7 linked regions of the Homo sapiens genome follow. The protein of the gene in region 6 purifies or fractionates together with the protein of the main gene of each other region. This does not show direct contact. Each region holds a gene or a part of one and is shown on either strand. Other genes may lie near its edges.

Region 1 (4,272 bases), on a different chromosome or scaffold from region 6:
AAGAAATAAGAACAAATTACCTACATGTCACGTGCTTATGATGTCAATTTCACATAGCATTAATTCCACGAACTCACTCTCTAAATGCCATCAAATACTTACTCTGTAGCTAAAATTAGAAGATTTAGGCCCTAGACGCAGCTTCTTTGAGTTTGGTCCAAGAGAAATGCCAATTCCTTTACGAAAGCAAACTATAGCCTCTAGTGGTACATGCAAGAATAAGAAGTCTAGGCAACAAAAATATCTTTTGAAATTGCCAGAAGAAATCACCCAAATCAATTCTCTACTCTGATCTGCACGCCTCATTGTTTATTTACTAAAATCTTGTGATGAGTCTTTTTTAAAATTTATTATTATTATTTTTTTAGAGATGGGGTGTCACCAAGTTGCCCAGGCTGTTCTTGAACTCCTGAGCTCAAGCAACTGCCTGCCTTGGCCTCCCAAAGTGCTGGGATTACAGGCATGAGCTACTACACAAGGCCAGTAATGATACTTTTTAAATGCGTAAGAATTTTAAGTGAGCAAATAAAAGAGAATAAAAATAACCATTTCTTATAGAAAAGTTTCTGAAACAGTTTCCCATCCCTGTCTATGGATAGGGATCCCTTTGAATAAGGCACATAGAAAACAAGATATTAAAAAAGCATCATATTCTTTTATAAGCAGTTCATGGTTCCTACATTTAAACATGTTCTTTAACACATACACTATAGGTATGTTTTCTCACAACTTACAATTGCTATGAATCCCTTAAACCACGAAATGTAAATTCATGCTTTCCCAAGGCAATTTCCATCAGATCAACAAAGAGACCAGTGAGAACAATGAATGCAACATGCAAATCTGATTCTAATAATGTCAGATTAATCAGAAACAGTTTTGTTGTTGTTTGTTTGTTTGTTTGTTTGAGATAATGTCTCTGTCTCCAGGCTGGCGTGCAGTGGGACAATCATGGCTTACTGCAGCCTGGACCTTCCCAGGCCTAAATGATTCTCCCATCTCAGCCTCCTGAGTAGCTGGGACCACAGGTGCATGCCACTGTGCCTGCATAATTTTTTAATTTTTGTGGAGACAAAAATTAAAATTTAAAATTAAAAAATTTAAATATAAATTTTGTAGAGACAAAAGTGTTTCCCTATGTTGCCCCGGCTGGTCTCAAACTGTTAGGCTCAAACAATCCACCCACCTCAGCCTCCCAAAGTGTTAGGATTACAGGCATGAGCCACTGTGCCCAGCCTAGAGGGACAGTTCTTACAGTTTATTGTTTTTTTATAGAAAGTGAGTCCAAAATGCAAGAATAAGCCTTAATAATTATGCTAACATTTATCCTTATTACTCATATTCATAATACAAACCAACCTTCATAAGAGGAAGTTTAGACTGCAATCAGAACAAGTTTGTTATCAAAGACTTCTCACCTCCTCCTATTGGCCCTCCCTATTGCAGTTACTTTTTTTAACTCTGAGAGTTAGGGATCATTATTTATGGCATGCTACTGGGTTGAAAAGAGTGTAAAGACATAATAATATCCAATCATAAATAACTTATAATTACATTCAAATGAGATTCCAGGAAAGTTGAGGCACAGAGTAGTATCCACTGTCATACAAATCAAGGTTAGTTTGGGTTTATCATTACGCTTAGAGGCTCTAGGCTAGCTGATACTTCTTGTAAATGTCCTTTTCATTCAAGGTACCACACATAGCCCTTTAAGGAAAATAGATGTATGCTATGCCTAAGCTTTTAGGGAGCTCTAGTCAATTAAAAAGAAAGAGGAATCAGAGATTAAACTGAGAGAAGTGTTCTACCTGTGTCCTCGAATGTCAGACTGATCACATACTCCTCCAAGTGCAATCCTGTGGAACTCTCGACCTAGAGTCTTGGCCACTGATCTTCCCACACTTGTTTTACCAACTCCAGGAGGGCCAACAAAGCATAGGATTGGGCCCTTCAGGTTATTTTTGAGCTGTCTGACAGCCAAGTATTCCAGTACTCTTTTCTTCAATTTTTCCATGGCGTAATGGTCATTATCCAGAAGAATCCGGGCTGCCCTAATGTCCAGGCGGTCTGTCAAATAACCCAACAGAAATAATTAGAACACATAAAATTTTTAAGTTAAAGAACTCCTTTCAAGCATGACGAGGGCAAAATATTTTTTTTGAAAATAGATGTGATAAGAACAGACTTGGATCTTTCTAGATGAGGATTCTAGGAGATCTGCATTTGGTTTGGTTTCTCTGCTTAAGACTTAGTGTCCCCAGAGATAGTAGGCACTACACAATTAAAAACTCAATGTTCATATCATTTTATTTGGAATGATTTTCTAGTTATGCATTACTTCTTAATTTCTACATATTGTATGTGTGCTGGCATTTGTTTTTTAAAAAAAAGGGTGATTTTTTTCCTTATTTCAGTAGTAACATATGTTCATTCCAGAAAACCTGATAACACTAACAGAAAAGAAGAAAACAGTTACCCATAATCTCATGCCCCCAAGAGATCACCACTACCTTTACTTCAGTATGTGTAATTCCAGGCTGTGTGCGTGCATTTACAAACCTATTTTTCAAAATGGGATTTTATGGGGCCTTTAAGTTTTGTAAAATGTTTTTTTCACTTAATATATGACAGACAACTTTCACTGTCACACATATATTTATCAGTAACATTCTATGGTTACTTAATGTTCCATTACTAAATTATCTATATTCATTTAACTAATTCCCTACTGCTGAGCATTCAAGTTGTTTACACATCTTTACATTTATAAAAGATGCTTCAACTGTGCATCACTGGAACTAAATCTTCCCATATATCTGCAATGATTTCTTTCAGCTTATCTTCTATGAACAGAAGTGCTGGGTCAAAAAAAAAAAAAAAAACAGATGATGTAAAGAATTGCCTAATTGCCACACAGAAAGTTGTATCAAAGTCTCACCAGAAGTGTATGAGTTAGGCTTTGTTTCTAGAGCCAAGCTTTCAACAGGTTTACTAATAAGATTTAGCATTTAAAATACTCAGATTAAACACCAGGTAACAGAAGCCAAAATGAATTCACTAGCTGGGTGGCTGCCAGGGTATAATACACAGCCACCTGATCATGCTGGCAGTGAAAGAAGAAGATGGGAGAGAGAAATACACAGAAATCTTTTAATTAATTAATACATATCTTTTAATTAATTATTTAGAATTTGCTAAGGATATTTCATAAAGGAAAAAAATGGCCTGAGATGGTAATTTGGTTCCCAAGCTAGTCCCCCAAAAAACCTAGCTAAGCAGTAAACTATATAATTTAATTATAGTACTATTGATTTTAGTCAGAGTCCTAGGTGAGTGAAGTAGGAGAAGAACAACTAAAATTTCTTCCCCCTTTCCTGGCTCCAGAACCCAACCAATGAATATATGAAGAAGTGAAAGATAGAGAGTTTCTCAATTGTTTCACAGTGCTAGCCCTGACACTAAAACCTACCACAGTAAACATAAAAGAAAACCTCAGACAAATCTTTTTATATAGCTGTAAATATTAAAATGCTAGTAAATCAAATCTATAAAGAATAATATACTAAGTCCCAGTGGGATTTATTTTAGTTATGCAAACATGGTTCAGTGTTAGGTCATCAATGTCATCATGTTCAAGAAGAGTAAGTTTCCATCAAAATATCATCTTGTACCTAAAAAGGTACTTGTTATAATGCGTTATCCATTCATGATTAACACATTCAGTAAGGTAAGAATAAAAGTCAAGATAATTTAGAAAAGACTGAAAACACTGTGAAGAAATTTCTTGCAAGAAATATGCCAAGTAAAGACAATTTTAAAAGTTCTTTCAATCTTTTAAGTAAAGGTGATTTCCATGCTGTATAAATTATTTTCTATCTTTTCTATACAGGATATATTTTTCTAATTATTCTCTTTAATGATTCAGAAAGCATGCTTCCTGTTTTGAATAACATGTGATTACATGTAAAAAATTTTTCAAATTTCAATATAAATTTCCTTATTTATAATTAGAAGATTGAAATGGTATCTACTGACTCCTCTAAGCTGGGAAAATCTGCAAACATATTTCCTACAACTCTTTCCTCTCTGCTTTCCTTTTTGTTTTCGGTTACTATCTGAGATCTCTACTTGGTAGGTAAACTTCTCTTTCAGAAATTATGAATGGGGGGCCAGGCTCGGTGGCTCACACCTGTAATCCCAACACTTTGGGAGGCCGAGGTGGGAGGATCACTTGAGGTCAGGAGTTCGAGACCAGCCTGGCCAACATGGTGA
Region 2 (3,500 bases), on a different chromosome or scaffold from region 6:
TATTTCTCCCACTTTTAGCACAGACTGGCCACTCAGCTCTCCTAGCCCAATGGATGCACCATCAGTTAAAATACGCAGAATGGATCCTTTCGCTACAAAAGAACATATTGAAATCATAGCTCCTTCACCACAAAGAAGCAGGTCTTTTTCAGTAGGGATTTCCTGTGACCAGACAAGTTCATCTGAGAGCCAGTTCTCACCACTGGAATTCTCAGGAATGGACCATGAGGACATCAGTGAGTCAGTGGATGCAGCATACAACCTCCAGGACAGTTGCCTTACAGACTGTGATGTGGAAGATGGGACTATGGATGGCAATGATGAGGGGCACTCCTTTGAACTTTGTCCTTCTGAAGCTTCTCCTTATGTAAGGTCAAGGGAGAGAACCTCCTCTTCAATAGTATTTGAAGATTCTGGCTGTGATAATGCTTCCAGTAAAGAAGAGCCGAAAACTAATCGATTGCATATTGGCAACCATTGTGCTAATAAACTAACTGCTTTCAAGCCCACCAGTAGCAAATCTTCTTCTGAAGCTACATTGTCTATTTCTCCTCCAAGACCAACCACTTTAAGTTTAGATCTCACTAAAAACACCACAGAAAAACTCCAGCCCAGTTCACCAAAGGTGTATCTTTACATTCAAATGCAGCTGTGCAGAAAAGAAAACCTCAAAGACTGGATGAATGGACGATGTACCATAGAGGAGAGAGAGAGGAGCGTGTGTCTGCACATCTTCCTGCAGATCGCAGAGGCAGTGGAGTTTCTTCACAGTAAAGGACTGATGCACAGGGACCTCAAGGTCTGTATTTGTGGAGCATCACCCTTGGGGTTTCAATCTGACGTTTTGTGATTCAGAGCAGTACTTGCAGTACTCTGAAGGATCCTTAAGAGTTGGGGAGAGTAAAAGCATCTGAGAGCAGAGGTCTGAGAAAGTAGCCTCGAAGGGGCCTGCTGCAAGAATAAGAAGTCTTATGTCTGAAAACTTTAGGCAAACCATGCATTCATTGTCTTCAGTAATGTGTTTGTGTTCATTTTACTGTAAAAGGTATTCTCAGTAGTCCAGGTGAGGGAAAAAAAAGAAAAAAGAATCTTTAGGTAAAATCCACCATGAGCAGATATAGCCTGTTTTTTTGTTTGTTTGTTTGTTTTTGTTTTTCTATGGTTTTGAGTAACCCTGACACCAATACCTCCAGGGCTCTGAAGCAGCATGGTGAAAGGGATCCGAATGGAAGGAGAGACATGGGTTCCTTCATTAGCCAGCTTGAATTGGGGCAAATCTCCACACTTTTGCTTCTTTTTCTGAACTGTTTAGACTTTGGGGGAAGGGGTAAGAAGCCGAATGGGGAAAGGTAGCAAATAGTTAACAGATGACTGTTTACAGCTCTAAAACCTTGGATTCTATTTTCAATATATTCAGTAGTGAATTTTGCAGTAATATAATATGCAAAATTATTAAAGAGTCTTACTAAAACATGACATTTCCGTAGTAGTGTTTCTAAAAATAAGTACATGGAACTTTTATTTAACTAATTTCCCACATTCCATATACTCTTAGCCATCACCAGTAGATGTGGAGTGAATGTATAAATACTTTTCTGATGAAAGTAGCTTAAAGTCTTGATAGATGTGGATCCATTTTAAGTCTTTTCAGACTTAAAACAGACTTGTTTCAGGCACAAAAGTAGCTATTTGGACACAAGTTATTTTCTTCTAAAATCAGCAGTAGGTTTTCAAATTCTTGGGTATATTTTAAGAGTTTTAGGGTAACAAGAATAGGAATTAGAAATAATTCTTATTTTTTAATATAATTGTTATTTAGTCATATAAATCATTATGCTTCAGTGATTTTGACGTGGGCCCAAACTGATTGCCAAGAATTGTTCTGCACTGAATGAAAAGTTCAGAGATGAATTATTTGGTTGGATTGGAGAAGACAGTTTACAGGAGACCACACACCCCTAATTTGAGAGAATACTAGCAGTTAGGTTTGAATATAGTAAACGCTTATCACTAGGTGGGAAACAGCTAGCTGAAATACACATTCTTCTTGTACTTAACACTTGCTGTACACACAAATGCCAACTTGAAAGACAATGAATCATGTTTTCACTAATAATGAATATTCTTCTGCTAATTTTATAATGTAAATGAGATATTGGTAAATATCCATTTAATGCTACAATGTTGTCTAAAGATTTTTCTGTAATTGTCTATGCACCAGAAAAATTGCAAGAAGAAAGTTAATATTCCTGTTAGTTTTTCTAGAAATCAGAAAGTTTTATTCCTTTCTAAATAGAAGACAATTCCTTTTAAAGATTTCTAGTGCGCCACCCCCAACCAAAAAAAAAAAAAAAGCCAAGATTTTTGTTCCTGGGTGAAAAAGCTGTACATTTTGCTACGTTCTGACCTAAATCTTTGAGCTCAATGTTAAACCTTCTAGGCCCTCTCCCCCTGTTATATTTTGGTCACATTTTTGTCTTCAGGACTTTGGCTCCTGCCTCTTCAGACTAACTTCTAGTCTTCTATTTTCTCCACTCTGAACTTTTCTCAGTTCCTCTTGATATACACTGTTCTGACAGAAACCTGGTCCTTCTTCATTATTCTCATCACACCTGGATTATTTATTCTGTGGTTTCTATGGGGTATGAACCATATCTGTTTCTTTTACCTGTTATAGTCTCAGTACAATGCCTGAATGTTCTAGATGGTCATACCATTTATTTTGAATTTTATTTTCTTTGCACTCAAAAGTGTTTATACTGACTTAACCAGAAAAGGAAATCTGTTGGCCCACATGGCTAAACTGTTGAGAATTCAGGTAAAGCTTTAGCTGAGATCAAGTGATTTAGCCAGAACCTGGTTTCTGTCCTCCCCATTTCTTGTTTCTATTTAAGTCTTTTGGAGTTGGTGGGGTAGAGGGTGGAGAGAAAAGTATTGCTTTTTCCCACTATCAGAAATTTTATTCTACTTAAACCAAGGACACCTACCCATCCCTCAACAATCCCTAGCCAGGCAATGGGATTCCATGGATTGGCGTAAGCAACTTTTAGAGCATGGATGCCTTCCACACTAACCGTGGGGTTTTGCTGCACAGTCAGCAAGAAGGAAGTTCCCAAAGTAAAGTCAAGATACTTCTGCTGGAAGCACAGGGAGATAGATACTGGAGAGCCAAAAAGCTTGTCTATTATAGGGTTCAGTAAATAACAACTGCCATCAGATGTTGGGAGTTGGGAAGAAAGATGACATTTAATGCAGGATAGTCTATTATTGCCTCTGGTACAAAGTTATTTATTGGAGAGCTGCAGATTATTACCATAGATCTTATACACAATAACTTCATGCTTCCAAGTCAAAATCGTTTAATGGTATTTTAGAGTTTGGGAATGCAATGTTATTTTCTGGCAGTATTTGAAACATGATGAAATTCAATTTCATGAGCTAAATGGCTTCCTTTTTCCTCATTTCAAGGGCTATGAATGGTGGTCATATTACCCGCAGAG
Region 3 (4,272 bases), on a different chromosome or scaffold from region 6:
CTCCCAGGTTCAAGCGATTCTCCTGCCTCACCTTCCTGAGTGGCTGGCATTACAGGTGCGCACATCATCATGCCCGGCTAATTTTTGTATTTTTGTAGAGATGGGGTTTCACCATGTTGGTTAAGCTGGTCTTGAACTCCTGACCTTAGATGATCCACCTGCCTCGGCCTCCCAGTGTTGGGATTACAGGTGTGAGCCACTGCGCCCGGCCTAAGTTTTTACTCTAGATTGGCTTTCCTTTCTCGCCAAGAACTTTGATTTTAACATTTGCATGAAAATACGAGACTATGTTTAGTGTGTATTAAAAACATTCCCAAACAAAAGCCATGAATCCTCTCCTGTGACACAAATGCTCAACAGCTGACTCTATAGCGATGGCCTTTGTTTCAGACATGGTTACTAATACTTTAAGTGGTAGTAAAAATAGATTTTTTTAATTTTTAATTTTTATTTTTTTTTTGAGACAGTCATGCTCTTGTCACCCCAGCTGAAGTGCAATGGCATGATATCGGCTCATTGCAACCTCCACCTCCCGGGTTCAAGTGATTTCTGCCTCAGCCTCCCGAGTAGCTGGTATTACAGGAGCCCGCCAGCATGCCCAGCTAATTTTTGTATTTTCAGTAAAGACGAGGTTTCACCATGTTGGCCAGGCTGGTCTTGAACTCCTGACCTTGTGATCCACCCTCCTCGGCCTCCCAAAGTGCTGGGATTATAGGCGTGAGCCACCGCGCCCGGCCAAAAATAGATGTTATTTAATTCTTTTTTTTTTTTTTTTTTTTTTTTTTTTTTTGAGATGGAGTCTTGCTCTGTCACCAGGCTGGAGTGCAGTGGCGTGATCTCAGCTCACTGCAACCTCTGCCTCCTGGGGTCAAGCGATTCTCCTGCCTCAGCCACCCGAGTAGCTGAGATTACAGGCACGCACCACCATGCCCAGCTAATTTTTGTATTTTTAGTAGAGACAGGGTTTCACCTTGTTGGCTAGGATGGTCTTGATCTCTTGACCTCATGATTCGCCTGCCTCGGCCTCCCAAAGTGCTGGGATTACAGGCGTGAGCCACCGCGCCCGGCCCAATGTTATTTAATTCTTACTTTTATTGGGCCAAGACACAAAAGGGACGCTGAGACTCTGAAGAGAAGGAATCCCTGTGTGTGCTGAAAAACTATTCCCTTTGCTAGGCTACACCAATTTTGACATTTTATTGGGCTAAACAAAAGACAAGAAAAATGCACACAAGAAAAATGCTAGTAAAAACTTCTTTTACTAGCTTGTATAGTTGCATCTGCTTTCTTTTCTTCTTTTTTTTTTTTGAGACAGAGTTTCACTTTTGTTGCCCAGGCTGGAGTATAATGGCACGATCTTGGCTCACCGCAACCTCCGCCTCCCGGGTTCAAGAGATTCTCCTGCCTCAGCCTCCCCAGAAGCTAGGATTACAGGCATGCGCCACCACGCCCGGCTAATTTTGTATTTTTAGTAGAGAACGGGGTTTCTCCATGTTGGTCAGGCTGGTCTCGGATTCCCAACCTCAGATGATCCTCCCGCCTCGGCCTCCCAAAGTGCTGGGATTATAGGCGTGAACCACTGTGCCCGGCCGCATCTGCTTTCTAATGTAAGAGACTGATCTAATAGTCTAGAACCTGACAACTCTTATGGTATCATGGATTTTGTTTATATGCTTTATGAAGGTCACTGCACTGTGGCAACAGTCCAACACTACTGTACCAGCTCCCTCTGACACGTTCCCCTCCAAACTCACGCAGTGGCCAGCTCACTCAGGGCCTCCTGATAGCGTAGGTACTCATTCTGGCCAAAGACCTTAGGAAAGAGAAAGGAAGAGTGAGGATCTCTCAGTCTGAGGGATCTCTTTAGTGCCCCGAAGAAAAAACTGGCTTACCCCTGTCCCATAGCGGGCTGTTTCATAGCCATCCAAAAGGGTATCAATGAGTGCTTTGCGTACACCCTTGAAAGGCGTACTAGTGTTTCGCAGATCCAGCAGGTAGGAGCGGAAATTCTTGCCCATTAAGGAACGGGGATGCCGGCCTTCAGAATGAAATGGGATCTCTGTGGAGAAAACAGCACAATGATATCTCTTCTCATTCTTTAGTCTTTTTTTTTGAGATGGAGTCTCGCTCTGTCACCCGGGCTGGAGTGCAGTGGCAGTGATCTTGGCTCACTGCAACCTCCACCTCCTAGGTTTGAGCAATTCTCTAGTCTCAGCCTCCTGATTAGCTGGGATTACAGATGTGCACCACCATGCCAGGCTTATTTTTGTATTTTTAGTAGAGACAAAAATACAAAAGGGTTTCACCTTGTTGGCTAGGTTGGTCTTGAACTCCTGGCCTCCTGTGATCTGTCTGCCTCGCCCTCCCAAAGCGTTGGGATTACAGGCATGAGCCACTGCGCCTGCCCCATTCTTTAGTCTTTCTAGTTAATTCCCCAAACTTAGAAGTAGGTCTAATGAAGCTGGGCGCAGTGGCTCACGCCTGTAATTACAGCAATTTGGGAGGCCGGGGCAGGCAGATCACCTGAGGTCAGGAGTTTGAGACCAGCCTGGCCAACATGGTGAAAACCTGTCCCTACTAAAAATACAAAAATTAACCAGGCATGGTGGTAGGTACCTGTAATCCCAGCTACTCGGGAGGCTGAGGCAGGAGAACCGCTTGAACCCAGGAGGTGGAGGTTGTGGTGAGCCAAGATCGTGCTACTGCACTCCAGCCTGGGCAACAGAGCAAGACTCCGTCTCAAAAATAAAAAGAAATAGGTCTAATGAAATGAGCAAGTTGAGTTAGAGGGAGATTCTGATTGAGACCAAAGGTATAAAGCTGTGCCTGAGTGGTCATTTGGTGGTAACACCACAGTTGTAAGCTACATCTATGACACATGATAGTGTCATCACACATTTTACCATCCTGCTTACTCATCCATCCTAGGTTTAAGATATAAACTGTTTTCATAGAGATAAAGCATATATGACAAGTGTTGACAGAATGGAAAAAATTCAAGAACAATCTATCTTGGGCTTAGTGAAAAAGCAGGTGCCACCTGTCCTTTGTGGAAAAACAAGCAAATTACTATCATCTACTTCATGAAACTAAAGGTCTCAAGAGAAGAACTTTAAAAAACAAAACACCCAGACTCTTTGGAGAATAACCTGCTTATATCATTTCCTTCAGCAAAATCTCTAATCTAGTACTTTCAAAACTCTAGAATTTCCTACTAGCCAGGGATGTGCAGAAAGGACAAATCCTAACATACAAAGTGGGTTCATTACTCTGTTCCCTAGGTGGGCTTTCAGGATCCTAGAATGGACCCTGTCAGGTAGCCCTTACCAGAGGTACGAATGGCATCCAGAGCTTTCATCCTATACAGATAGTTGTAGCAACCTGTTGAGGAAAAGACTGGTGTTAGGCATAACCCTAAAAATATTCCCCAGGCTGGGCGTGGTGGCTCATGCCTGTAATCCCAACACTTTGGGAGGCTGAGGTGGGTGGATCACCTGAGGTCAGGAGTTTGAGACCAGCCTGACCAACATGGAGAAACCCCGTCTCTAGTAAAAACACAAAATTAGCCAGGCGTGGTGGCGCATGCCTGTAATCCCAGCTACTCAGGAGGCTGAGGTAGAAGAATTGCTTGAACAAGGGGGTGGAGGTTGCAGTGAGCTGAGACTGCACCATTGCACTCCAGCCTGGGCAACAAGAGTGAAACTCCATCTCAAAAAAGAAAAAAAAAATTCCCCAAACTCCAGCAAGCTAATAAATGGGCTCTGCATCTAACATATATCCAATAACAGGAATAACTAAGGCTTTGCCAGCAGCTTTTGACAACTCTGAGAGAAAAGGAATTCTGGACTTGTGGGACTCCTCACTGAAGCATTCCAAGAGCTTGCCACATACTTTGATTTCCCTGGGTTTCCAGTTGTAGTAGTCTAGCATCATCATCTGCAAGGAGCTGGGGCTCATACTTGATATCCTGAACCCTGGAGAGTCGAATATCAATCTCCTCTTTCAAGTCCTGTTCACATAAAAAAAGAATACACAATCATTTACCCTGCACTCTGCTTTCCACCAATGTGAAAATGGGGCAGAGTTAATGAATAACTAAGACAACAGAAATAGAGACCATGCTCATGTAGTTAATAAAATTACCAGATAAGAGGTAAGAATTTAGGAAAGAACGGGATTGGGTTTTCCAATAACCTCTCCAAGCTGCACATCTCTAAGCTAGAACATTTAACTTGTGCCAGAAATCCTTCAAGCTATACAGCACCAACATTA
Region 4 (4,272 bases), on a different chromosome or scaffold from region 6:
TCGAACTAACAGCTGCACCGGAGGGGCACAGCTCTGAATTCTCATGGCTGAGACTGCCTCCCAACCCATGTGTGCCTCACATGAGGTGAACACAGGAAACCAAAGCACAGACATTAATTGGGCTCTTTTCTGAAACCAAAGGTCATTTTCCGAATGTGATTCTACCCGCGGTCATCACACCTGCATTGCTCTGAATTTGTCTACAAACACTACAGTGACAAATGTACCATGACTGCCAAGGAATCCTTCTGAAGGGCATTCCACCAATGAAAGTGTATGAGGGGGCCGGGCGTGGTGGCTCACACCTGCAATCCCAGCACTTTGGGAGGCTGAGCTGGGTGGACCACTTGATGTCAGGAGTTCAAGACCAGCCTGGCCAACATGGTGAAACCCCGTCTCTACTAAAAATACAAAAATTACCAGGATGTGGTGGTGGGCGCCTGTAATCTTATCTACTCGGGAGGCTGAGGCAGGAGAATCACTTGAACCCGGGAAGCGGAGGTTGCAGTGAGCCGAGATCGTACCACTGCACTCCAGCCTGGGCAACAGGGTGGGACTCTGTCCCCCGAAAAAATAAGAAGAAAAAAAAGAAAAAGCCCACTCGGGCTGCAGGTGCTGGAGCTGGGCAGGCAGCAATGGGAGGACACCATCAGGAGACAGTGACCGGGACAGCTAGAGACCTTGTTTGGGGGCAGAATCCACAGGACTGGATATGGGAATGAGAGCAAGGGGCACCTCTAGCTGGGATGTGTGCAAGATGATGCTACTTTTGCAGGAGGGGGGTTCTTGTTTTTATGAGGAAGGGAGAGGGACACAGGTCGGGGCATTGAGGCTCGCCTGGAAACTTCTCAGAGCAGCTACTGAGCAGGCTGCTCACTGAGGGTCTCATGATCTATTCCTCTGACCTTGGACTCAGCACTGAGCTGGTGTTCAAGGCCATGACGGTGACTAGAGTCAGTGAGGGAGGGAAAGAAGGGGGCCCAGGACTGCATCCCAGGGTCTCGCCTGGCCAGGCCAGGAGGTGAGCTCTGCTCTGGAGTCACAGGACCTGCACTCACCTCCTGGGATCCTTTACAATCCACCAGTTATTGACATCTTTGAAGGGGTAACAGGTCACCTGTTGCTGGTGGGAGCTGCCTCGGCCGTTCTCATATCTGTGTGAAGTCAACAAAGAGATGTATCTGGGCCAGGCGCGGTGGCTCAGGCCTGTAATCAGAGCACTTTGGGAGGCTGAGGTAGGATAACTGCTTGAGCCCAGGAGTTTGAGACCAGCCTGGGCAACATAGTGAGACCCTGTGTCTATTTATGAGAAAAAGAAAAGAAAGGGAAAGAAACGTATCTGGAAGTGGGTCATCGATCGGGCCCACACGCCTTTCTCCTAAAGTTTCTGCAAAGGGAAGCAGATTTCAACAAATACAACCTAGCAAGGGGTTTCAGGGAAAATGAAGATACCACAGACAAGGAGCCGAAATCAGATGATTCAGGCAGGCAGTGCTGAGGTCAGCCACAGCCACAGAGCTGGGGCCGACCCTGGGCCCTGCCACACGCCAAGTCCCTCCAGCAACACCCGGGAACCACGAAGCTCACTGGCAATCAGCACCCGGGCTGCTCAACTTCTTTCTGTCCTGCAAACAAACTTCCTCAAAGAAAGGGAAAGTTGCTAAGATAAGCAAATCTACGAGCAAATAAAGCATTTAATTATCTTCAAAGTAAAACCATCACCTTACATCATGGGGTAGGTGTCCTGGTGGGAATGAAGCCAGCAGGGCACAGGTTTCCCAAAGACGTTCCTCAGAGTGACCTGGGACCCAAAGGCCACCTCCAGTGGCTGACCCTGAGTGATCCGAGCTAGTCCTCCCTGAGACAGAAGCAGAAGGTTGATGAGTGAGAGACAGAAAGAAAAATGACCCTAAGCCAGCCTTCCCGATGGCCACTCCTCCCTCTGGGGTGATGTTTAGGCTGGTGGCCATTCTTGTAACAGTGGTAATGATCTCCCATTTAATCACATCACGTTACATTATAGAACCATAATGAGCACTAAGTCTGATCAAATGCTGCCTCTGGGCCAGGCACTCAGTTCAGCCTTCCACGCGCACCCTATTCAGTCCTTACAAGCATCCAATGAGGTAAGAGCAATGATGATGTCTGTCTAAGAGATGAGAAAACCAAGACTAGGGTGAGCCAAACAACTTGCTGAAACACACAGCACTACAGCACTGGCCGTCGGCAGGCTTGGCTGACTTCAGGAACCACAGTCCTGACCACCTCTACTGATACCTTCTACCACTGCTGCGAGGTTCATAGGAATGAAGGTCACAGTTGAGTGTGGTCCTTAAGGCGGGTGAAACTGCCCAGGGTTTGTAAGACTTGACTTTAAAATGCTCCCAGCTGCCAGGCGCGGTGGCTCACGCCTATAATCCCAGCACTTTGAGAGGCCGAGGCAGGCGGATCACTTGAGGTCAGGAGTTCCAGACCAGACTGACCAACATGGTGAAACCCCATCTCTACCAACAAAACAAAAAAATTAGCTGGGTGTGGTTGCAGGTGCTTGTAATACCAGCTACTTGGGAGGCTGAGGTAGGAGAATCGCTTGAAGCCAGGAGGCGGAGTTTGGGTGACAGAGTAAGACTCCATCCCCCCCACCAAAAAAAGAAATATGGATGTGGATTCTTCATGTTTTGATTCAAGTGCTAATGTTCACTTGATGTGTTTGTAAGAAAACTCTGGGTCCACTATCATCTTCCTTCTCCAGTGGCCACGATGCCCACTGCTTACTTACCTCTAAGCTGGCCTGGAAGGCACTGGACATGATTTGGTCGTGGGGCCCAGAGCGGAAGACTAGAATCAAGTGGACGTAGAAGAACAGTAAGTACAGGACGACCGGGATGACCAGCAAAGCCACTGCTCGGGCGAGCAAGTGACAGAACACACAGACCTGCCAGAGATTCAAAGAAAAGTCATGTTCCACTGCGTGGAAAAGCGTACCCACCTCTAGACATTGTGAGCTTAGAAAAAGTTAGTGACAGAAACTCTGGCCTCCCATACAGAGGCACCTGCAGAGGCCAAGAGGCGAGGCTGCCCAGGCCTGCCTGCTTCTAAAACATTGAGGATTGGAGTCTTTTCACCAAGTACCCCCTGTGACATCTGCATCTGCCCCATACAGGCCGGCCTCATGCAGCACTGGACATCAGCACCTACATTGGACAAAGTCTGGTCTCCAAGCAGGTGCCAGGCATGGACAGCTGCAACACCCAGCACGAGCACGTACGTGAACACACCCATGTACTTGATGCTGCAAAGACATGACAGAAATGGAGTTAACATGAGACAGGAAAACATAAGGAGATGGAGGAGGACACTGCCCAAGACCAGAGGCTCAAACTCACCCCACTGCACAGGAACAAGCGACCCCTGTCAGTGTTAGCCAGAACCACCAGCTCAGAGAAAAAGGGCTGGAATAAAAACAAAGCAGATGGAGACAGAAATAGTTCAGACACATTTCCAAAAGGCTAGTGAAGCTCCACATTCTTCAGAGAAATCTTTCTGGGTCGGCTGGCCATGCTGAGCCACAGGGGCAGTAAGAAAGAATTCCCATCTCCCAAAGTATCCATCCCAGCAGAATTTTTCTTTTTGCCCAGAAAATGTTGTCCTGTTAGTTTAAATTATAGAAAAATGAAGATGTATTTATGAAGTCACAAGCCAAGGGCCAACCCCCAAAATATTAGAGGACCAAAAGATATCTAGCACTAGGCGCAGAGGCTCACACCTGTAATCCCCACACTTTGGGAGGCCAAGACGGGTAGATCACCTGAGGTCAGGAGTTTGAGACCAGCCTGGCCAATATGGTGAAACCCCGTCTCCACTAAAAATACTAAAATTAGCCAGACATGGTGCTGTGTGCCTGTAATCTCAGCTACTCGGGAGACTGAGGCTGGAGAATTGCTTGAACCTGGGAAGCGGAGGTTGCAGTGAGCCGAGATTGCGCCATTACACTCCAGCCTGGGTGACAGGGACTCCGTCTCAAAAAAAAAGATATTTAGCAAGCAACTCCTCAAAATGAAAAGGTACTGTCTCACAAAACGAAACAAAAAAAGGTACTGGACCATCTCAGATCAACAAACCACCCAGAATCTCTGTTCTCGTTAACTAGGAAGACACTCCATTTTCCATACCTGTGCTTTTGGCAGTTGAAGAACTTCAGGTAGGACAACACGGCCAATAGATTGAAAAATATTAACACTGATTCCAAAAGCATTAGCCTTGACTGAGTGA
Region 5 (3,630 bases), on a different chromosome or scaffold from region 6:
ACAGACTTTTGAATCCTATCTATTCATTAATGCATGCTCCCTGAGGAGTGGAAAAAGCCTTGTTCATCGAGTTCTGTATATATTTTGAAGACATGCATTTCATTAAATAGACACTGTCATTCCGTTTGTCACTTATTCACAGTGGCCATCTTCTCAAATATAACATTCCAAATTAGAGAGAGGTTTAACTGTACTGGGGGGAAAGGAAGGGGATTCAGGGAAGTGATATGGGAAGGGAAAAATCTTGTGGGAGGGCTGCCCCTCTCTCTCACAATTATGGCGGAAATGACTAGGAGCTTCTGCAGACACAGCATGCCCCAATCTCTGCATCCCTGGGAAGCAGAAACTGGCTTTATTCTTTTCCACTCCCATCTTCTTTTCAGTCCTTCTCCCTGGGCTCCCAATTAGAGGGTGAGGGGTACCAGACCAGCTCCTACCCCTGGTTCTACTCTCATCACCTCCTATAGCTCCTTGACCAACTCCTGGTTCCTGCCCTTAGCTCCGCCTTCTGTTCCTCTGCTGGGAGAAAAGAAAGCCATCTGAATTTCCCTACGCTTCTGGTTGGGAAATTCACTTCCTTCTCTCTTTGGCTGTTGTAATTATCTGGGGTTTGTACTGTACATGTCCGTGTGTGTGTGTGTGGGCTGGGGGCAACACTTGGCTTTTTAAAATTCAGGCTCAAAACTAATTTCTAATTAATGGCTGAGTTGCAGAGAGACCAATACCTACCACAAGTGGTTTAGAACAAATGTCCAAATTATTTCCTGGGCCACATGGCATTTAGGCTTGGTAATATAGCTATGTCTGACCTTAGGATACAAAACCTTCCAAGTAAAAGCTTCTATATAAGCTCTCCCTTCCATCCTAGGATCAAGGAGCTAACCTCTCAGATCACCCAAACCCCAGCCTTGGGTATGAGATACCCAGCAAAACTGCCTTCTTAGCTTGCTGGGTATCTCACACATTTTCTGCAAGTCAGTGAGAGGAAATCACTTATGGTAGGGTATCCTGAGTATGGCGGGAGAGCAGGGAAGGAACCCCCAGATTCCATTCCCTCTGTTTGTCTGCTGGTGACAGCACATAAGCATGCCCTGGACACCCCCATGGACCCAAATTTAGAAAGTGGATAAATTAGGGTGCCATTATTCATTTTACAAAAGAATTCACTGCAGGAGTCCTTTAAATGGCAAAGTCCCCTGGTGCCTTTTAGCATCTTTATAGATCACCAGCTACTTTGACAGAGAGGCTGGGCAGGCAGAGAATTAAAATTACAGTGTAAGGAGCCACTGCCCACTGCAGCTCAATCCCAAAGAAAATCGCATCTCAGAAATGATGGCTATAGCTGACAGGTTCTCATTTACTGGCTTTTTAGGTAGGGTGATGTGTCCGGCAAGGCCACTCGATGGCAGGAGAGGGGGAGTGAGTGGCATCAGCAACCTGGGGATGTGAGCTGTGAAGAGTACATTCTTTACCATGCTGTTCCTGGCACCTCTCCCTGGGAATCAACATGCCTACTGAGCCCACGATCTGATCTAGGAGGATGTCTCTCCCCATTTCTAAACTCCCAGGCCACATGATCAAGTCCATGTCCTAACATCTGCCTGAGGTTCCTTTCTTGCTCCTTCTTGTTCCATCCACCCTGCCTAATGTCAGGACATCTCAATAGCATTTTTTCCAGGGTATCTCAAGTCTCCCTGAGTTAACTACCCACTCCTAATTCCCACCCAATGGGGGCTAATATGAGCTTCAGATGCCTTCTGCCTCACAGATATAAGGAGGAGGAAGAGAGAGAATCAGGTGAGGAGTGGAAAGGAGGGTAGAGAACCAAGATTAGGGAAGGAAGAGGGAAACCCAACCTACCTGCTGCAGTCAGCACAGCCCCTATAGCCAAGATCCTCCAACCCATCATTGCCTCCACCCCATTAACAAACCCACCCCCAGCCCCTAAGGACGCTCTGGTGAAATGGGGGGTGACAGACATACACTGGAGAGGTAGAGGAAGAGGAGGGCTTAGAGTCAGGAGGAGGCTGGGAGGGGGTGGGTTTTGCAGGGAAGTGGGTGTGACCTGTGAATGTGCTGGGCCCATCTAGGGCCCAACTCTTGGTGTTGCTAAGGTATTGTTGGACAGTTCTGGGAAGCAGCAGCAAATGCTCTCTTTGGGTGGTGTCTTGGGAGATGGATCTGTGCAGGTGTCGGAGGGCTGGAGTCTGTGGAGGTTCTCTGGGTGTGGAGGGCAGCAGTGAGAGGGGAGAGGCTCCGGAGGTGTTGGAGGGAGTGGGCTTCACGACCAACCTGCAGTGGTCCGGAGTCACCTCCCCCTGTGTCCTCCGCCCGTGGCCAAAGCGGAACCAGGAGAATTACCTGATGAGGAGCTGCAGTGGGAGAGAGTGGGGTCATGGGGTCAGGAGCCTTGGTGGGGGGATGGCAGGCGGGGGGAGCCTAGCAGTCAGAGCAAAGAGGAGTATGGGTAGGAAAATGAGCAGAATTTTGGGAAAGCAAGGGGTAAGGGTGCAGAAGGGAGGTCCTAGAAGCTGGCTTGTGAGAAGAGAGGCTGGGCAGCAGGCAGCTGGGAAGGTCTGAGGGCCAGAGTGGGAGGGAGGCCAGAGGGAGGCTGGACTTAAATACTGAGGGCAAAGGGAGGTTACAGGATGGAAGGCCTTCAAGATCTGAAGAGTCAGGAAGAGGAAGCTATGCAGGAGCTGCCAAGGAGACAGGAAAATTAGGGAGCCAAGAGAACAGAGGTGATGGGTCCCCAAGTTTTCAGGGTACCGGCCAGGGCCTGGAGAAACTACAGATCATACTGCCCTGTGCTCTATTCCAGAAAACGGCAGCTTCTAGCCCTCTGGCCCAAGAGCGCAGAGGAAGCTGAACAACGTGGCTTGAATAGGAGTGAGCAAAGAAGGGGCAGGGGTTCTTGGAACTAGGTGGGGTCTAGGGGCAGAAAGACCAAGGTTCTGGTAGAGAAGGTCCTGAGATGCAGAGAGGAGTGGGAAGACTGGATGGGAAGGCACAGGAGTTGGGCTGACGCTGCCAGGAGTGACAAAGGCACAGACGATGGGATGAAGATGGGGTCACTAGGGGGCTGCCAGGAGCAGCCAGTGGACAAACAGCAGACTATGAGAGACAGATGGTGATGGGGCTAGGTGGCTGGTGTAGTGAGTGCACGAAAGACAGTGGGATGGATGGGGATGGGACACGGAGAAGATAAATGACATTGTAATTTCCACCTGAGCGTCGAGCAGCCTCTTCTTGGGTTCTGGCAGCGGCTCAGCCATGGCGGGGTGGTCCCGGCGCAGCTCCTCCTCCACCAGCATCAGCCTGAAGGGACGGGCTTCAGTGGGGTTAGTGGCGGGCACAGGCTCAGAGCCTGCCCATGGAACCCCATAGCTCTCTGGAAAAACCTCAGGCATCCTTATCCCTTAGAATCAGAGTCCCTCCATTGCCGTGATGCAAGACTCCCTGTTCCTCAGGATCATGCTCTCCACCTTCCTCCCAGGAACCCTTACACCTCCCTGCTAAGGCAGCTTTCTGTGCCTCAAAGACTTCTACCATCCAGACACCTCCAGGCCTCCATCGTCCCAATCAGGACAGCAGTGCCCCTTCCCCAGACCTTCCATGGCTGAGGACCTG
Region 6 (4,272 bases):
GAGTGAGAAAACATTGAACTTATATGTTGCCTTCCCTCTAATAGTTCAAGTTTGCCTGCTCTGTTGCCTCATATAACCCCTTTAGTCAGTAGTCTAAATTTTATTTTAGAAATTTAACTTTCAAGATAAGCAAATGTCTAGTTTAAAAGGGTCCTCTAGTCTAGGTGTAGTGGCTCATGCCTGTAATCCCAGCACTTTGGGAGGGTGAGGCAGGTGGATCACTTGAGGTCAGGAGTTCAAGACCAGCCTGGTCAATATGGTGAAAACCTGTCTCTACTAAAAATACAAAAATGAGCCAGGCATGGTGGCGGGTGCCTGTAGTCCCAGCTACTTGGGAGGCTGAGGCAGGAGAATTGCTTGAACCTGGGAGGCAGAGGTTGCAGTGAGCTGAGATCGTGCCACTGTACTCCAGCCTGAGTGACAGAGTGAGGCTTTGTCTCAAAAATAAATAAAATAAAACAAAATGTTCCTCTAATTTTGATGAGGGTTTTCTTGGACATTTTCTCTTAGGATCCCACTTATTTCTTCCTTCCTTTCTTCCTTCCTCCCTTCCATCATTCATTCATTCATTCATTCATTCATCCAACAAATATTTGAGAGATTAATATGAGTTAGTATTAGACATACATAAATGAATACTGCACCATGTTCTCTTTTCCCTTGAACAGTTTATGTTCTATCTCTGCTTGCCTCTAAAGGTCTCCCAGTTTGTATCTCACTCCCAGCAATGTTTTATGCTGAATTAATCTCTTCTGAGCGGGGATCTGTGAGTGGTGGTGATCAAGTTTCTCTAGTCTCAGGAAATATAGGGTGGGTCATCTATGCATAAAAGATATAGAAAGAGTAAAATAGAAAATAAGGTTAAGAATTAATTAGATAGCCAAATTGGAACAATACTCCAATTATCAGAAAATATTTTAGTGTGTTTTCTTCTTTAGAGTAGAGAACCTAGGAACAAGAGAACCTGCAAGAGAGGCTTGGAACTTTTGAGAACAAGCCCTCCTCATCTGCTTCAGTATCGAGATGTTAAAATGGCTTAGTCCTCTGATGGGCTTCCTGTTAGATTTAGTGAGCGCCACATGGCGTTAATAAAAAACAGAATTGCCATAAAGATAGAACATGTGTGTTCCTGGAATAGTATAGCAGGCAATAAGTAAGTCAGCAATGCTTCTGCAGTTTATGCAGGGTGACTGCTCAGCAGTAATTGCTTCAGTTCAAGCATGAGCAGAATGTGTTAGCTGCAGCCCTGGCTTCATAGTTGTAAGCAATTTCTGAGGGTGGAAGAAGAGATGGGAAAGAATTTATGATCTAACCGTTATCTGGGTCTGTGTGTTTATTCAGCTCTGTGCACCTAGAGGAGGCTGGCATTCTACGGGCTGGTCCAGGAGGGCCTGATCAGCAGTGGCCAACAGTATCCAGTGCAACACCAGGTAAAGAGCTGGGGTCTCTCCATTCTTTCTTGGTTTCTGGAAAGTGATCAGATGACCTACTTTTGTAAGATCAGGAATGTTGATGGCTCTTTTTCTTTTATATTTTTGTTATTCCCTTTTTTCCATACATACATGATTTCCTTACATATATGATTATTTTGATTTTATACCTAATGCTCTTCAGGAGTTGAAAAAGGATAACAAGGAAAGTGTGTGTGCACGCATGTGTGCATGTGTGTGTGTGTGTATGAAGTTTTTGGGGTTTGTTTGTTTGTTTAAATCAGGTACCTTTCAAATGCTTAGGTCATCCAAGCCATGCAGAGAAGATCTGGTGGCCTTATGCACAGAGATGACACTGTTAACAAAGATCTTTTGGTTGAAGACTATGGAAACCCACCCAAAGTAGTAAGGAAAGAAAGAGAAAAAGAAGGAAAGAAAGAAAAAGGAAGGAAGGAAGGAAGATGGTTTCTCATGGAAGTGGAAAATTATCGGAACCAAGGCATTGTTTTGAGTTCAAGTCAAAGTCAATCTGCTTCTCTCTGCACATCAACAACATTCTGCAGACTGACTTTTAGTGCCTTGGCATGCATGTTGCCAAACATGACCGCCTCACAATTTCTTAGTTTAGAGGGATAATAGGGACTATTTCCTAATCCAAACTTTCAGGAAAGAGAACCTGCTAAGTTGTGTAAAAAACCTAATGGCTGGGTGAGTATAGGAAAATTGCTTAAACTCACATTTGCTTGGTATCCTTATTCTTGCCCTATCACTAAAGCAGGGTCATGTAATAGAAATATGGCTTTGGAGGCCCATCGCTGTGGCAGTTTTCAGAAAGGGAAGATTAAGTGTTGGTAGAGACCACAAATTGTGTCTACTCTAATCCTCTATTAATAGAACATCATGATGATAATAGTAGTTACTAATTATTAAGCCATAATATGCCTAGACACTGTGCCAAGTACATTGTATGTGTGGTCTCATTTATTCCTTAAGTCAAGCTTGCAAGGGATTTATTACATCTATTCTACATATGAGAAACTGGAGAGGCAGAGAGATTAAGAAATGTACCCAAGTTCACGTAGCTTGTAAGTGGCAGAGGGTAGGATTCAAACCCAGATGTGTTTAGTTTCAAATCCAAGTATATCTAGCACTTATATTCATAACATGGCTGGCTTGCAATAATCCATTCAAATTCAAATACATATCTACATACATAACAGATGACAGAATGTGTGTGTAAAAGGTTTTTTCCCAAAAATAATCAGATGCCTTTCAAATTATTAAGTAACATGCAGCTAAGGGCCCATTTTTACTGGCAACTTTAAGGGCATTCGTTGATTCTAATCAGCCAGGATTTGCTATTTATGGATGTTGCACAATTCAACTAAAAGTCACATTTGTCCAAAAAATATACGAGTTGAAGCAATTCATTAGAGAGCTAATATTGCCAGATTGCAAGGGGAAAAACATAAAATAGTTCATTGACAAATCTGTACCCTCAGTGCCAACGATGGAGTGAAGAAATGATGGAGGAGGAAGTGGTTTTAGACTGCCAAGTGTTGCAGGATGTGGAGGCATCTGGGAAGGTGAGAACTTCCCAAAGAAGCCACGTGAAATCATGACTTTCTACCTTGCCTTTATTTCAGAGTTTTTCTTGCTCTTATGGAGGCATTGTAGGTCGACCTGGTAAGCCACAAACTAACTTTGAATACATTCTCCCTCCCATTGGTGATGCTGGTTGGTGTGTATTCCTAGGCAAATGTGGAATAGGAACCATGTATTGATATTTCATACATCTGGCCAAGTCCCTCTTTCAGATTCAAAAAATGTTGAGAACCTATCTTTTTTACAGAGATAGAGAAGGGGATCTCCCTTGTTCCCTTTCTTACTGTCCCAGCCCCTCTTGTATAACCCATTTTATCCAGAACTGTGCCTGGCTGCTGATGCATGAGTCACAGTCTTCATGGACTGTGCTGGATAGAGCTTACATCTTCCAACTACTCCATGGCAACCTAATCATACTTTTCAATACATACCTCTGCATCAGTGGTGTAAAGTTAAAGGGATTCTCTGCCTTCTCCCTGTCCTTCTGGTACTTTTAGGTTTTTAGGACTCAATATATGTTCTGCACTGCTTGGAGGGAATATGGCATAAAGATTAAGATTATGATTTAGAGTCAGATTTGAGTTGAATTCTAATCCCAAGCTTACTTGCTGGGTGAGCATAGACAAACTGCCTGAATTCATATTTTCTTAATTACCCTTTCTGTAAATTGGGTGTAGTAATAATAATAACACCTATTTTATTGAGTTACCATGAGAACTAAAGGAGAAAAAAAGAACTGAGCATAGTGCTTGACATATAGTTAATAAATGTCTAATCTTTTTTTTTTGAGACAGAGTCTCGCTCTGTCCCCCAGGCTGGAGTCCAGTGGCACGATATCGGCTCACAGCAACCTCTGCCTCCTGGGTTCAAGTGATTCTCCTGCCTCAGCCTCCTGAGTAGCTGAGACTACAGGCGTGTGCCACCAAGCCTGGCTAATTTTTTGTGTTTTTAGTAAAGACGGGGTTTCACCGTGTTAGCCAGGATTGTCTCAATCTCCTGACCTCGTAATCCGCCTGCCTCGGTCTCCCAAAGTGTTGGGATTACAGGCGTGAGCCACCGCGCCTGGCCTAATCTTCTTACTCTTTTTTCTTTCTGGACTACTTTTCTGCAATCTATGATATAGTGTTGGCTGATAGCCTGGTGGCCAGAATTCAGTAGTTCTCATTTGCAGGCCCAGATATAGACCCTCTGAGGTTATCTGGGTCTATATAATCCAGTCACCCCAACTGTTCCCCTG
Region 7 (4,272 bases), on a different chromosome or scaffold from region 6:
CCCATCTCTACTAAAAATACAAAAATAAGCCAGGCATGGTGGTGGGTGCCTGTAGTCCCAGCTACTCAGGAGACTGAGGCAGGAGAATCGCTTGAACCAGGGAGTCGGAGGTTGCAGTGAGACGAGATCGTACCACTGCACTCCAGCCTGGTGACAGAGCGAGACTACACCTCAGGAAAAAAAAAAAAAAGGAATTATTATTGCTGTCAATAACACATGAAAATCCATAGAGACAAAAGTAAATTCATGGTTGCCAAGGGCTGGAGAGAGAGGGGAATGAAAAGTGACTACCAATGGGTAAAGGGTATTTTTTGCGGGTGATGAAAATATTGGGGAAGTAGGTAGACCACTGAATCATACACATCAAAAGGGTAAATTTTACGGTATGCGAATTATACCTCAACAAAGCTGCTATTTCAAAATAAATAAATAAATAATGCATGAAGTCTGGAGAGCTCAGCTTACAGGGATGGTCCCCGGGACTCACGGGAATCTCGTTTGAGAATGGAGAGTGTCTATTTTCCTGGAGGGAGTGACTGAGGAAATATTCCAAGAATGGGTGGTGAAGCAAGGCCATGCCACAAATGGGTCCCCCGGGAGACAAGGTGTACTGACCTAGGTGGTCTGTGAAGGCCTGTGAGGAGATGTGAAGAAGCAAGGAGGGCCCTGGCAGAAACCCTGGGAATAAGGGGAAAGAAAGCCAGAGGACGGGACCAGGAGGGGAGGCGGGGTACCACGACAACATGCAGCCATCAAGTAAGAACAAGGATTCCAGCTCTGAGCTTCCACAAGGCAAATCTAAGCCAGGTTCCAGAAGGCAAGGACAAGGTCATTTTCCCAGGATAGAGAGATAGTGGGTTTCTCTTTCTACTGTTCTCCATGGGGAGAAGTAACAGAAAGAGCAAATGTTTTGAAAGTCCGACAGACCTGAATTTAATTCCCAGCCCCAACACTGTCTGGGTGGCTGTGGCCACATTGCTTAAGACTTTGGTCCTCAGTTTCCTTATCTAAAAAATATAATTAAAACCCACGTGGTAGGATTACTGTAAGGATAAAACATATTAAGCACATGAAGCACCAAGAACATTGTCTAACACATGCTAGGCATTCAATAAATGGTGGCTATTACTCTTGCTCTATTTTAAAATTATAACAAGGTAGATGTTATACCTCAATACAGCTTTTTTTCTTTAGAGAAAAATTAAAACATATATGGCTCCACAGATCACAGGACCAGAGCTGGGGGTAGAACAAGGTGCAAACAAATGCGAAAGTGCGAAAGTTTCCCAGCATACTTTTTGATGATGGGATTATTTTTGCTTTGGGAAACTAAAACTAATCCTGTCACTTAGACTATAATGTTAAAGCTCTTTCCTATTTTGATCAGTGTCTTAGGGAGCTACACAGAACTGTCCCCTCTATCTCCAAACCTGCAACATTTTGGCTATGAAAAATAAATAAGTTTATTTTCCAAACCCAAAGTTTACTTTTGAAGCAAAGTTTTATTTTCCAGCCCGTCCTCCTGTACTGGGAAGTTGGGTTTAGGTTTGGGGAATTCACGTTCAAAAGTGAGGAGACATTGGTTGCCCAGGTGGTGTTCTTCCTGCCCTCAATGGCCCTATTTTCAGGCCATGAAAGGACTTCAGGCCAGCGTGGCTTTGGACTTGAGGCCGAAGCCAGGCAGCCATGTGTGGTGGCAGTGAGGGGACAGCAGCATGGCAGGTGGACAGCTGCCAGGCGTCGGATACCCTGCATCCCCATGTCCTCACCCTCAGCTTGGAAACAGCAGCAGTGCCAGCAGTGCACATGGCTCCACCGTCCTGGGAGCCTACTGGCCACAGGCTCCTAGACTCTCTGGAGGGCAAAATACCAGGCCCATCTCAACCAATGGTTCACTTCCTCCCTGATTATTCTGGTATCAGCCAGACCACCTCAGACTCTGGTTTCTCTTTGTTTTACATTTTCACCTTTAAAATATTGAATAATGTCAGCCCTCCCACAACACCTCCAAAGTTGTTTGAAATGCTGTGAATGTTACTTCATGGCGTTGCTTTTCCAAACTCTGGTGCTCTGCTCGCTGATGGGGAGAATAAGAGTAGCTGATGTTTGAACAGCGATATACACTCATTCTCCTATTTGGATCCTCACAGCTGCCCTGCGAAGTGAATTGGCTAAGGATTATTATCTCCACTTTACAGACAAAAAAAAAAAAAGGGATTTGATTCCTTCTGAACTCTCAGAGAAAGAGATGAAGTCAAAGAATGTGACCCAAGACCCAAGTCATTTCTCTAGCCTACAGCCTTATTTATTCTTTAGCTATTTACTTTGTTACTTTTGTTAATGTCTTTGAAAGGTTTTAGCCCAACGTAGATTATTTTGGAAGAAAGAAAGGAATATAAATGACTGTACATGACACAATGGTTATAAAGTAAATAGAGCTTAATTGAGTACTCAAGTCAACATTTCTGCCCACAGGCAATATGGAGAAGAACATTCATTCACTGTCTAGATTTTGGCTTGGTTCTCTAAAGGACAGGAGACAAGATTATTTTATTTTCCTTTTAGCTAGGTTCAAGTGGGCAACACCAAGTGTAGCCGAGTGTATTAAAAGAAACCCCTGTTGGCAAATTGGCAGCTTGAATATTTCATGAAATTATCACAACACTATGTTCTGAAATGATGGCTTCCTCCAGGGAACTCAAAAGCCACATCTCTAAGCATGAGCCTGGCTCATGCCTCCGTCTTCAAGCTAGACCGAGTCAGCCTCAGAGGCCTTCCAGTTTCTCAGAGATGACTTGAAAGAGTATGAAACAAGTCAGCCAATGAACACTTCAAGGAAGATGGGAATGTCAGAGGCAGGTCCTAGTGATTCTCTTCCATGGGCTGAGTCTACCACCACTGCTGGGAATGTCTCCTGGGAGTAGGCCGGGGGTCCTAGGAGACCAACCCTGACATGGGAGCAGAAAGACGCCCTTGGTCGCCCAGCTCAGGTGGAGTCTGTGGCAGCCTGTCTCACAGTCTCTACCCTGGGGCTGATCTGTGTGTCTATACCCCAGCTACTGGTAATGCCAGCTGGTCCATGAAGAATCCCAGCAGCTCACCAGGGAAGTCCCACAGCACAGCCCGGCTTCCCATCCCCATCCCACTCTCGCAAAGGGGCTGAAACAAGCCTAGATTGGGGCCGAGAGGAAGTGAGCAAATAAAAAAGGCTTAGAGGCAGATCTGTTTGCAGACAAAATCGTGATCTGAATTTTGCAGGAGTTTCTTGTGGACATGTATGAACTTCTACTCTGTAGCCTAAGAAAGTGTTTTTAAACCTTTCCAATGATAGATTTCCCCCACCCCACCCTTCCAACTCCATTCCTAAATCTAACATCGCAGAAATTATTTTAAGGCAGTACAAAGGTGGAGGCAGGGGGAGGAAGAATAGAGAGGTTGAAAGATCTACCAAGCAAAATTTAGCCAGAAGCACTAACAATGCTCTCTCAGGGGGCCAGCACCAAGTGTGGTACAGGCAGGAGGATGAAGAGACTGAAGACCTTGTATTTAGTTACATCCCTGCCTCCATGAACCTTTAGGGGCCTCTGTTTTCTCAACTGGAAATGAGGATTGTCTCTAAGGTTCCTTTACCCATAAAATGTCCTGATCCTAGAAAGTAAATTCCCAAAGAGACATTACATTTATTCTATGTTTGACAAACCCTTTAACGAACCAGAGCCTAGCCCCTTGCCCCCTATACACACAGGGTATAGCACAAGAAGCCCATTTTAAAGTGAAGGTGTTTTGCAGAGAACTGTTCTGTGGGGTTTTGGGGAGGGGAGGGGCTGAGAGGTTTGGGTTTCTTGCCAGTTAACCCCCGCTTTCCTCACCCTCTGCTTCAGCCAGATGAACCCTTCCTCTAGTTCCCTCGGCTTCCAGGGAAGGAAGGGTCTATTTTCAACCTCGGTCCGACTCCTGAGCTCCAGGCCCAAACTTCTCTCCTACAGTCCCTACAATCCCAACTTAAATTCAGTTCAGCTCCACAAGGAGTAACTGACTACCCTGATGACCTTGTTCCCCAAACCCTCCCAGACACCCTAGGGAGTTGGGGCTCCTCTGGCTTCCCCTCACCTTCTGCATCTCAGCTCTCGGAGGCTCCAGCCATCTCACAGCTCTGCTTTTCTGTGGGGTCATCCTGGGCTCCCCATCTCCCAGCTGGGGTCCTGCCCACACGGTACACACAGCTAGCACTGAAGCAAGGTTCTCCAGGGACCTGCGCGGGTCCTGCCTGAA

Evidence for each region.
Region 1: the proteins of PCDHA4 (region 6) and LONP2 purify together in Homo sapiens (affinity purification with mass spectrometry; 2 studies listed by BioGRID and IntAct, with this or other methods). This does not show direct contact.
Region 2: the proteins of PCDHA4 (region 6) and EIF2AK3 purify together in Homo sapiens (affinity purification with mass spectrometry; 2 studies listed by BioGRID and IntAct, with this or other methods). This does not show direct contact.
Region 3: the proteins of PCDHA4 (region 6) and LTAP1 purify together in Homo sapiens (affinity purification with mass spectrometry; one large-scale study listed by BioGRID and IntAct). This does not show direct contact.
Region 4: the proteins of PCDHA4 (region 6) and POMT1 purify together in Homo sapiens (affinity purification with mass spectrometry; 2 studies listed by BioGRID and IntAct, with this or other methods). This does not show direct contact.
Region 5: the proteins of PCDHA4 (region 6) and SYNGAP1 purify together in Homo sapiens (co-immunoprecipitation; one large-scale study listed by IntAct). This does not show direct contact.
Region 7: the proteins of PCDHA4 (region 6) and CACNA1C purify together in Homo sapiens (co-immunoprecipitation; one large-scale study listed by IntAct). This does not show direct contact.

Annotation. Positions count from the first base shown.
Region 1 is NC_000016.10:48,267,811-48,272,082, reverse strand, and holds part of LONP2 (lon protease homolog 2, peroxisomal), read right to left. Parts: intron 2,068-4,272; coding exon 1,809-2,067; intron 1-1,808. UniProt on the Homo sapiens protein: ATP-dependent serine protease that mediates the selective degradation of misfolded and unassembled polypeptides in the peroxisomal matrix.
Region 2 is NC_000002.12:88,571,965-88,575,464, reverse strand, and holds part of EIF2AK3 (eukaryotic translation initiation factor 2-alpha kinase 3 isoform 1 precursor), read left to right. Parts: exon of another isoform or gene 1-18; coding exon 19-799; exon of another isoform or gene 800-951; intron 952-3,500. UniProt on the Homo sapiens protein: Metabolic-stress sensing protein kinase that phosphorylates the alpha subunit of eukaryotic translation initiation factor 2 (EIF2S1/eIF-2-alpha) in response to various stress, such as unfolded protein response (UPR).
Region 3 is NC_000001.11:154,210,566-154,214,837, forward strand, and holds part of LTAP1 (protein C1orf43), read right to left. Parts: intron 4,010-4,272; coding exon 3,892-4,009; intron 3,382-3,891; coding exon 3,328-3,381; intron 2,060-3,327; coding exon 1,893-2,059; intron 1,814-1,892; coding exon 1,755-1,813; coding exon of another isoform or gene 1,751-1,754; exon of another isoform or gene 896-1,750; intron 1-895. UniProt on the Homo sapiens protein: General regulator of phagocytosis. Required to uptake Gram negative bacterium by macrophages.
Region 4 is NC_000009.12:131,508,923-131,513,194, reverse strand, and holds part of POMT1 (protein O-mannosyl-transferase 1), read right to left. Parts: coding exon 4,173-4,272; intron 3,453-4,172; coding exon 3,387-3,452; intron 3,293-3,386; coding exon 3,199-3,292; coding exon of another isoform or gene 3,054-3,198; intron 2,936-3,053; coding exon 2,780-2,935; intron 1,859-2,779; coding exon 1,728-1,858; coding exon of another isoform or gene 1,723-1,727; intron 1,155-1,722; coding exon 1,059-1,154; intron 1-1,058. UniProt on the Homo sapiens protein: Transfers mannosyl residues to the hydroxyl group of serine or threonine residues. Coexpression of both POMT1 and POMT2 is necessary for enzyme activity, expression of either POMT1 or POMT2 alone is insufficient.
Region 5 is NC_000006.12:33,447,531-33,451,160, reverse strand, and holds part of SYNGAP1 (ras/Rap GTPase-activating protein SynGAP), read right to left. Parts: intron 3,332-3,630; coding exon of another isoform or gene 3,319-3,331; coding exon 3,228-3,318; coding exon of another isoform or gene 3,225-3,227; intron 2,373-3,224; coding exon of another isoform or gene 2,358-2,372; exon of another isoform or gene 1-2,357. UniProt on the Homo sapiens protein: Major constituent of the PSD essential for postsynaptic signaling. Inhibitory regulator of the Ras-cAMP pathway.
Region 6 is NC_000005.10:140,981,134-140,985,405, forward strand, and holds part of PCDHA4 (protocadherin alpha-4 isoform 1 precursor), read left to right. Parts: intron 1-1,341; coding exon 1,342-1,430; intron 1,431-4,272. Other genes in the region: PCDHA1 (protocadherin alpha-1 isoform 1 precursor), read left to right, coding at 1,342-1,430; PCDHA2 (protocadherin alpha-2 isoform 1 precursor), read left to right, coding at 1,342-1,430; PCDHA3 (protocadherin alpha-3 isoform 1 precursor), read left to right, coding at 1,342-1,430; PCDHA5 (protocadherin alpha-5 isoform 1 precursor), read left to right, coding at 1,342-1,430; PCDHA6 (protocadherin alpha-6 isoform 1 precursor), read left to right, coding at 1,342-1,430; PCDHA7 (protocadherin alpha-7 isoform 1 precursor), read left to right, coding at 1,342-1,430; PCDHA8 (protocadherin alpha-8 isoform 1 precursor), read left to right, coding at 1,342-1,430; PCDHA9 (protocadherin alpha-9 isoform 1 precursor), read left to right, coding at 1,342-1,430; PCDHA10 (protocadherin alpha-10 isoform 1 precursor), read left to right, coding at 1,342-1,430; PCDHA11 (protocadherin alpha-11 isoform 1 precursor), read left to right, coding at 1,342-1,430; and 4 more. UniProt on the Homo sapiens protein: Calcium-dependent cell-adhesion protein involved in cells self-recognition and non-self discrimination. Thereby, it is involved in the establishment and maintenance of specific neuronal connections in the brain.
Region 7 is NC_000012.12:2,059,072-2,063,343, reverse strand, and holds part of CACNA1C (voltage-dependent L-type calcium channel subunit alpha-1C), read right to left. Parts: intron 1-4,272. UniProt on the Homo sapiens protein: Pore-forming, alpha-1C subunit of the voltage-gated calcium channel that gives rise to L-type calcium currents. Mediates influx of calcium ions into the cytoplasm, and thereby triggers calcium release from the sarcoplasm.